Linked DNA regions of Homo sapiens: region 1 is linked to region 2. The links come from fine-mapping of genetic effects on gene expression. A gene starts in region 2. The other region holds a variant in brackets. All regions are shown on one strand. Distances are between the middles of the regions.

Region 1 (4,516 bases), 79 kb before region 2:
CTTTGGGAGGCCGAGGCGGGCAGATCACTTGAGGTCAGGAGTTCGAGACCAGCCTAGTCAACATAGTGAAACACCGTCTCTACTAAAAATACAAAAATTAGCTGGGCATGATGGTGGGCACCTGTAATCCCAGCTACTTAGGAGACTGAGGCAGGAGAATCGCTTGAACCCGGGAGGTGGAGGTTGCAGTGAGCTGAGATTGCATCACTGCACTCCAGCTTGGGCGACAGAGTGAGACGCCATCTCAAAACAAAAACAAAACATTGTTTTGTTTGACCTCATGGCCTTCTGGTCTGTTGCTTTTTTTTTTTTGACACGGAATCTTGTTCTGTTTCTGTCACCCAGGCTGGAGTGCAGTGGCCTGATCTCAGCTCACTACTGAGTTCAAGTGATTCTCCTGCCTCAGGCTTCCAAGTAGCTGGGGCTACAAGGCGTGCGCCACCAAGCCCGGCTAATTTTTTGTATTTTTAGTAGAGATGGGGTTTCACTGTGATGGCCAGACTAGTCTCTAATTCCTGACCTCAGGTGATCCACCCACCTCAGCCTCCCAAAGTGCTGGGATTACAGGTGTGAGCCACCACACCTGGCTTTTTTTCCTTTTTTTGAGACAGGATCTCCCTCTGTCACCCAGGCTGGAGTGCAGTGGTGCAATCATGGCTCACAGCAGCCTCAACTTCCCAGGCTCAGGTGATTCTCCCACTTCAGCCTCCCTAGTAACTGAGTCTACAGGTGGGCACCAAAATGTCTGGCTACTTTGTTTATTTGTTTGTTTGTTTTTGAGATGGAGTCTCGCTCTGTCACCCAGGCTGGAGTGCAATGGCGTGATCTCAGCTCACTGCAACCTCTGCCTCCTGGGTTCAAGGCATTCTCCTGAGTTTCGCTTTTGGTGCCCAGGCTGGAGTGCAATGGCTCGATCTTGGCTCACTGCAACCTCTGCCTCTTGGGTTCAAGCTATTCTCCTGCCTCAGCCTCCTGAGTAGTTGAGATTACAGGTGCCTGCCACAACACCTAGCTAATTTTTGTATTTTTAGTAGAGACGGGGTTTCACTGTGTTGACCAAGCTGGTCTTGAACTCCTGACCTTGGGCAATCCACCCACCTCGGCCTCCCAAAGTGCTGGGATTACAGGCATGAGCCACCACACCTGGCCTTACCATCTGGCCTTACCTAGGATTTCTTTATTATTTTTGTATGATATGGAGATGCGGGGGTGGGGGTGGGGGTCTGGCTATGTTGCCCAAGCTGGTCTTGAACTCCTGGCCTCTGCAATCCTTCCACCTCAGTTTACCCAAATTGTTAGGATTTCAGATGTGAACCATGCCTGGCCTTACTTAGGATTTCTTACTGTTCTACTGAGACTGGAGCTTCATGTGTTCAGATTCACACTCCCATCAGACAACAGTGCTGATACTACTTAAGGGTCTCCACTCCTACCTACCCTCCCCCACATTAAAGGGCCTTTCATTTTATTACTCACTCAGCTCCAGCTCAACCTGGTATTCAGGGTCCGAGTTCTGAAGGAGAAAAATCTTCCTTGGTTTCCTTGTTTATACACTGTTGTATCTACTTATAAGACTGTTGATTGGTCCCTCCCCCTCCCCCTCCCCCTCCCCCTCTCCCTCTCCCCACGGTCTCCCTCTCTTTCCACGGTCTCCCTCTCATGCGGAGCCGAAGCTGGACTGTACTGCTGCCATCTCGGCTCACTGCAACCTCCCTGCCTGATTCTCCTGCCTCAGCCTGCCGAGTGCCTGCGATTGCAGGCACGCGCCGCCACGCCTGACTGGTTTTGGTGGAGACGGGGTTTCGCTGTGTTGGCCGGGCCGGTCTCCAGCCCCTAACCGCGAGTGATCCGCCAGCCTCGGCCTCCCGAGGTGCCGGGATTGCAGACGGAGTCTCGTTCACTCAGTGCTCAATGGTGCCCAGGCTGGAGTGCAGTGGCGTGATCTCGGCTCACTACAACCTACACCTCCCAGCCGCCTGCCTTGGCCTCCCAAAGTGCTGAGATTGCAGCCTCTGCCCGGCCGCCACCCCGTCTGGGAAGTGAGGAGTGTCTCTGCCTGGCCGCCCATCGTCTGGGATGTGAGGAGCCCCTCTGCCTGGCTGCCCAGTCTGGAAAGTGAGGAGCGTCTCCGCCCTGCCGCCATCCCATCTAGGAAGTGAGGAGCGCCTCTTCCCGGCCGCCATCACATCTAGGAAGTGAGGAGCGTCTCTGCCCGGCCGCCCATTGTCTGAGATGTGGGGAGCGCCTCTGCCCCGCCGCCCCATCTGGGATATGAGGAGCGCCTCTGCCCGGCAGCGAC[C/T]CCGTCTGGGAGGTGAAGAGCGTCTCTGCTCGGCCGCCCCGTCTGAGAAGTGAGGAGACCCTCTGCCTGGCAACCACCCCGTCTGAGAAGTGAGGAGCCCCTCCGTCCGGCAGCTGCCCCGTCTGAGAAGTGAGGAGCCTCTCCGCCCGGCAGCCACCCCATCTGGGAAGTGAGGAGAGTCTCCGCCCGGCAGCCACCCCATCCGGGAGGGAGATGGGGGGGTCAGCCCCTCGCCCGATCAGCCGCCCCGTCCAGGAGGGAGGTGGGGGGGTCAGCCCCCCGCCCGGCCAGCCGCCCCGTCGGGGAGGGAGGTTGGGGGGTCAGCCCCCCGCCCGGCCAGCCGCCCCGTCCGGGAGGGAGGTGGGGGGGTCAGCCCCCCGCCCGGCCAGCCGCCCCGTCTGGGAGGTGAGGGGCACCTCTGCCCGGCCACCACCCCGTCTGGGAGGTGTACCCAACAGCTCATTGAGAACGGGCCAGGATGACAATGGCGGCTTTGTGGAATAGAAAGGCGGGAAAGGTGGGGAAAAGATTGAGAAATCGGATGGTTGCCGTGTCTGTGTAGAAAGAAGTAGACATGGGAGACTTTTCATTTTGTTCTGCACTAAGAAAAATTCTTCTGCCTTGGGATCCTGTTGATCTGTGACCTTACCCCCAACCCTGTGCTCTCTGAAACATGTGCTGTGTCCACTCAGGGTTAAATGGATTAAGGGCGGTGCAAGATGTGCTTTGTTAAACAGATGCTTGAAGGCAGCATGCTCATTAAGAGTCATCACCACTCCCCAATCTCAAGTAATCAGGGACACAAACACTGCGGAAGGCCGCAGGGTCCTCTGCCTAGGAAAACCAGAGACCTTTGTTCACTTGTTTATCTGCTGACCTTCCCTCCACTATTGTCCCATGACCCTGCCAAATCCCCCTCTGTGAGAAACACCCAAGAATTATCAATAAAAAAATAAATTAAAAAAAAAAAAACCTTAAAAAAAAAAAGACTGTTGATTGGATTTTTTTTTTTCTGAGACGGAGTTTCGCTCTTGTTGCCCAGACTGGAGTGCAATGGGGTGATCTTGGCTCACTGCAACCTCCACCTCTTGGGTTCAAGTGATTCTCCTGCCTCAGCCTCCCGAGTAGCTGGGATTACTGGCGCCTGCCACCACGCCTGGCTAATTTTTGTATTTTTAGTAGAGATGGGGTTTCACCATTTTGGCCAGATTGGTCTTGAACCCCTGACCTCAGGTGATCCACTCGCCTCAGCCTCCCAAAGTGCTGGGATTACAGGCGTGAGCCACTGCATCTGGCTGACTGTTGTTTGGATTCAATGAGAAAAGTCAGGTGGAGCTCTGAATTACTGTGCTCAACCTTTAAGAAGCATTCAATGAACGCTAGCTGTATCTATTGCTATTTTCCCAACCCCAACCCTTCCCTCTCAGCTAGATCCCAAGATGCGATGGATTCTTCAACACTTAGGGACACGTCATGCTAAGCATCCCGGATATACACAGTAGATAAAGCTGCCAAGTAACTGGCCACCTCTGTTGGGTGCTGTCCTGACTGAATAAATGAAAGAAGGGAGGCTTTATTTATGAACAATCTCTGCAGTTTTCCAGCATCCCTTTATCTTTCCTTACTCTTAGCTGATGACTTTGGCTATTATTTTACTGTGAAAATAAAAGTAAAAGAAATCATCCTGGGCCAGGTGCAGTGGCTCATGCCTGTAATCCCAGCACTTTGGGAGGCCAAGGTGGGCAGATCACTAGTCTCAGTAGAACAGTAAGAAATCCTAGGTAAGGCCAGGCATGGTGGTTCATGCCTGAAATCCAAACAATTTGGGCAAACTGAGGTGGGAGGATTGCAGAGGCCAGGAGTTCAAGACCAGCTTAGCCAACATAGCCAGACTCCCCATCTCTACATCATACAAAAATAATAAAGAAATCCTAGGTAAGGCCAGGCCTGGTGGCTCACGCCTGTAATCCCAGCACTTTGGGAGGCCGAGGCGGGCAGATCATTCGAGGTCAGGAGTTTGCAACCAGCCTGACTAATGCGGTGAAACCCTGTCTCTACCAAAAATACAAAAACATTAACCAGACATTGTGGTGCATGCCTGTAGTCCCAGCTACTCATGAGGCTGAGGCAGGAGAATAGCTTGAACCTGGGAGGCGGAGGTTGCAGTGAGCTGAGATCGCATCACTGTACTCCAGCTTGGGCGACAGAGTGAGACTC
Region 2 (4,000 bases):
ACTCCGTCCCTACAAAATAAAAAGTTAGTTGGGCATGGTGGAGCGCACCTGTGGTCCCATCTACTCTGGAGGCTGAGAAGATCTAAGCCCAGGAGTTTGAGGTTACAGAGTGAGCTGACTGTGCCACTGCACTTCAGCTTGGGCAACAGAGAGCGAGACCCTGTCTCAAAACAAAAACAAAAAAAAGTTATATGAATGTGGTCTCTCTCTCAAAATATACTTTTTTTTGGCCAGTCATGGTGGCTCATGCCTATAATCCCAAAATTTTGGGAGGCCAAGGAAGGAGGATCACTTGACTCCAGGAGTTCAAGACCAGCTTGGGCAACATAGTGAGACTGTGTCTCTAGAAAAAAAAAAACAAATTAACTGGGCATGGTGGTGCCTGTCTGTAGTCTCAGCTACCGGGGTGGTGGGGAGAGGAGTGCTGAGATGAGAGGATGGCTTGAGTCCAGGAGGTCGAGACTGCAATGAATTATGATGGCGCCACCGTACTCCAGCCTGGGCAACAGGGCAAGACCTTGTCTCAAAAAAAAAAAAAGCCTGGGCGATGGAGCAAGTGTCGATCATGGCTCACTGAAGCTTCAACCTCTTGGGCTCAAGCCATCCTCCTGCCTTAGCCTCCCCAGCAGCTGGGACTACAAGTGTGTGTCACCAAGCCTGGCTAATTTTTCTGTAGACATGGGAGTCTATGTTGTCAGGGCTGGTCTTGAACTCCTGGCCTCTTGCTGCCTTAGCCCCCAAAGTGCTGGGATTACAGGCATGAGCCACTGTCCGGCTTCCCCTCCCCTCCCCCTGCCCCTGACAGGGTCTTGCTCTGCCCAGGCTGGAGTGCAGTGGCGTGATCTCAGCTCACTATAGCATCAAACTTCTGGGCTCAAGCCATCCTCCTGCCTCAACCTCCTGAGTAGCGGGGACCACAGGCGTGTGCCACCATGCATGGTCTTTTTTTTTTTTTTTTTGTAGAGATGAGGTCTTACTATGTTGCCCAGGCTGGTCTCAAACTCCTGGGTTCAAGTGATCCTTCAAACTTGGTCTCACAAAGTCCTGGGATTATTACAGGCATGAGCCACCACTCCCAGCCTCAAAATATCTTATTGTACTGTGTTCAACTATTTTCCAAGCGGTTGACCATAGCTAACTGAAACTCAGGAAAAGGAAACTTTGGATAAGGGGAGACTGCTGTAATAACATTGTCTTTGAAGGCTTTTCAGTCCCCAACTCTCCCTCCATTCACCCTAAAAAAAATTGAACCCAGCTGGGAACTGGACCCCAACCTAGGGTCCCGGACCACCTCAATCTTCTCTGTGCCACTGTAGTGAGCTCAGCAAATTGAGGAGTTAATGGCCAGAGTGTCAGGGGCAGGCTGGAGAAGGAAGGTAATTTTTCTGCTCTCTGCCCTGCAAGTTTCTTCCTCAAATTGCTGAACAGAGAGCACTGACCCAGCAGGGCCAAAGTGAGGAGGGGTGACAAATGTCTAAACTGCTGATGAGATGCTGGAGACCAATGTGCTGGGGTGGGTGGGTCGTGGGTAGGGAGGAAAGGAAACCTAGAGATGGGAATAGGAGCAGTCTTCACCTTGCCCCTGGGCCATGGGACCATTACTCTCTCTGCCACCTACCTCAATGCCAGCAGCCTGTTTGTACTAGACCAGAGCAGTGCAGGTAGGGCTGACTCGCAGGTGAACTCAGTGAGCCCAGAATCCCAGGTTTGGGAGGGACAGCCTTTTGCTGTAATACAGAAATGCCACCCGTTGGTGCAGGTGATGACCCCTCACTCCCCATGGGCACGTTAGGTAGGAACATACGTCCGGCATCCAGGCACAAAAGGGTCTTGCGGCAACACCCCGCGATCTCAAGAGCACCCAGACAGAAGGAGTGGAGGCAGGTACTGATAGTTTTGTTGCCCTTGAGGTTCGGAGCACAGCTGGACACCAAGGCCCCCTCCGCTGCCCAGCTCAGCAGCCCTTCCTCCCCAGCTTCTTTACCACCCCCAGTCTCCTTACCGGGTCCAGTGTCTTCAGCACTGCAATTTTACCAGCCCAGCTCTGCGAGTTCTCGAGAAGGGGCGGGGCCAGCGCCGTTATGTCCGGCTGCAGTAAGTGACCTCTCACTCCCCTCAGCTTATCCCTCAGCCATTGGCTGGAAGCGGGTGGCTCAACCATTGGCTGGAACCCGCCTCCTGGAGCCGAGACAGGCAGGTTGCTAAGAAGCCTGGGAGAAGAGGCTGGCTCTTTTTGCTGTCACTCTCGCCAACAGTCCGGAGTCCATTATACCCCTGGTGTGCAAAGAATGGGACCCTTGTGCACCAGGGCTGTATGTCCGGAGCTCGGGCAGTGTGGAAGGTGACAAGGAATCCAAAAGTTGGGCTGACAGGTGGGAGATTTTGAGACACCCCTGCCGCCCCTCCCTGGAGGAGGCCTCGGGATCCAGTCCGGTTTTCCCCGGCTGTGATCTCCACTTTAAACCCAGGGTAGACCTACCTCTATCTACTCTGTTGCAACTACAACTACCCTGTTTATCTTTTAGGGAAAGCAAAGTCAATCGCTTAGTTCTCGTATTCCAGGAATGATAACAGAAATGCCTAAAATAGTGGTTCCAAGAATTTGAGATTCCTTGGGCTAGTCGAATTTCTCCCCAAACAAAAATGAAACAACAACACTGAATAGCCGTCTTTTATTTTGCGTAGAAAAAAAAAATAATAATCGCCCCTTGGTGGCACACGCCTGTAGTCCCAGTACTCGGGAGGCTGAGGCGGGAGGATCGCTTAAGCCCAGGAGTTCGAGGTTGCACTGAGCCAAGATCGCGGCACTGCACTCCAGCCTGGACAACAGAGCAAGACCCCATCTCTTAAAAAACAAACTGCCCCTTAACAAGAGCAATGGCAGCTTAACACCCCGAAGTATGAAGGTTGTAGTCTCTTATCTCAAAGTAAGGGGCATAAATATAATACATTTCCTATTACCCTTTTGTCATTTGATGCAGGACAAAATTTATCAAACCTAGTCCCCCAATCTGGACAAATGTATCCATACACTGCCCTCTAGAGGCCGGACGGTGGAGCTGCAATTTTAATCAGTTTAAGTGAAGGTGTTCACCTTTAATTTTGAAAGATCATTTCCTTTCCTTTCGGCTCTCCAACTAGAGCTTTTACCAGGAATCAGGGAACGGGGGTGGGGGGTATTACCAAGAGATATAAGGTAAGGGAACCGACAGTGAAAAGTTGGCAAGTTGGCTTTGGCTCTTAAGTGTTTGGAAATGGAAAGGATTTCAATCTGTATACAATCAAATCACTGAAGAAGGCTAATGCCCAACCTATCCTACCAGTTGTTAAAAAAAAAATATATATATATATATATATGTATATATATATGGAGAGAGAGAGAGTGAGAGAGAGAGAGAGAGGGAGAAAGAGGGAGAGAGAGAGAAAGCGAGCTTCAACCTAAAAAAAAAAAAGTCTCAGCCAAAGGAAGATACAGAGAAGTCAGTTAGGGACTATCTAAAAGCCTCCTTCCTAATAGTGTCATCTACTTTTGTGTGACACACATACTTTACATAATTGACCTTAATCTTCAGCTTTTACTTTACAGATGAAGAAACGAGGCGGAAGGCACTAACTAACTTGATCAAGGCCACAGCTGGTTAAGTTGACAGAGACAGGCCTAGAATGTCAGATTTGTCTGGCACCAGTCCTCTTTCCTATCCACCTTCAGATTCTTTGGAATTTAAAGCCTACTGCAACCACACATAATCCTATTTCATTTCCCTTCCCTCGACCTTTAGACTGTGGTGGACTGAAGGGTTTGAAGTACACTAGGAGTCAAGAGCAGATCCAGAGGAAATTTTCCCGTTGAGGTGGAAGCTACAAGAAAACTAACTCAGTGATGTTTTTCAACCTTTGGGTCATGGACCCCTTTGAGAAACATATAGAAATGGATCCTAGAAATATGCACATACGGCCGGGCGCAGTGGCTCACGCCCGTAATCCCAGCACTTTGGGAGGC

Evidence for each region. PIP is the estimated chance that this variant, and not a neighbour inherited with it, causes the effect.
Region 1: its variant is the best candidate, but not a certain one, in a credible set for the expression of SUOX in whole blood (INTERVAL, PIP 0.60).

What each region holds. Positions count from the first base shown.
Region 1 is chr12:56,073,844-56,078,359 of GRCh38, reverse strand. No RefSeq gene overlaps it. Among named protein-coding and RNA genes, the nearest start is that of ERBB3, 4.1 kb to the left of the region's middle. RefSeq lists an enhancer at 363-412. The variant C/T (reference allele first, on the strand shown) is at 2,300.
Region 2 is chr12:55,995,342-55,999,341 of GRCh38, reverse strand. SUOX (sulfite oxidase) reads right to left here and starts at 2,066. Exons shown (of 5, transcript NM_001032386.2): 1 at 2,003-2,066; 2 at 1,619-1,727. RAB5B (RAB5B, member RAS oncogene family) reads right to left here. Exons shown (of 6, transcript NM_002868.4): 6 at 2,659-4,000. RefSeq lists a silencer at 2,017-2,206 and an enhancer at 1,792-2,292.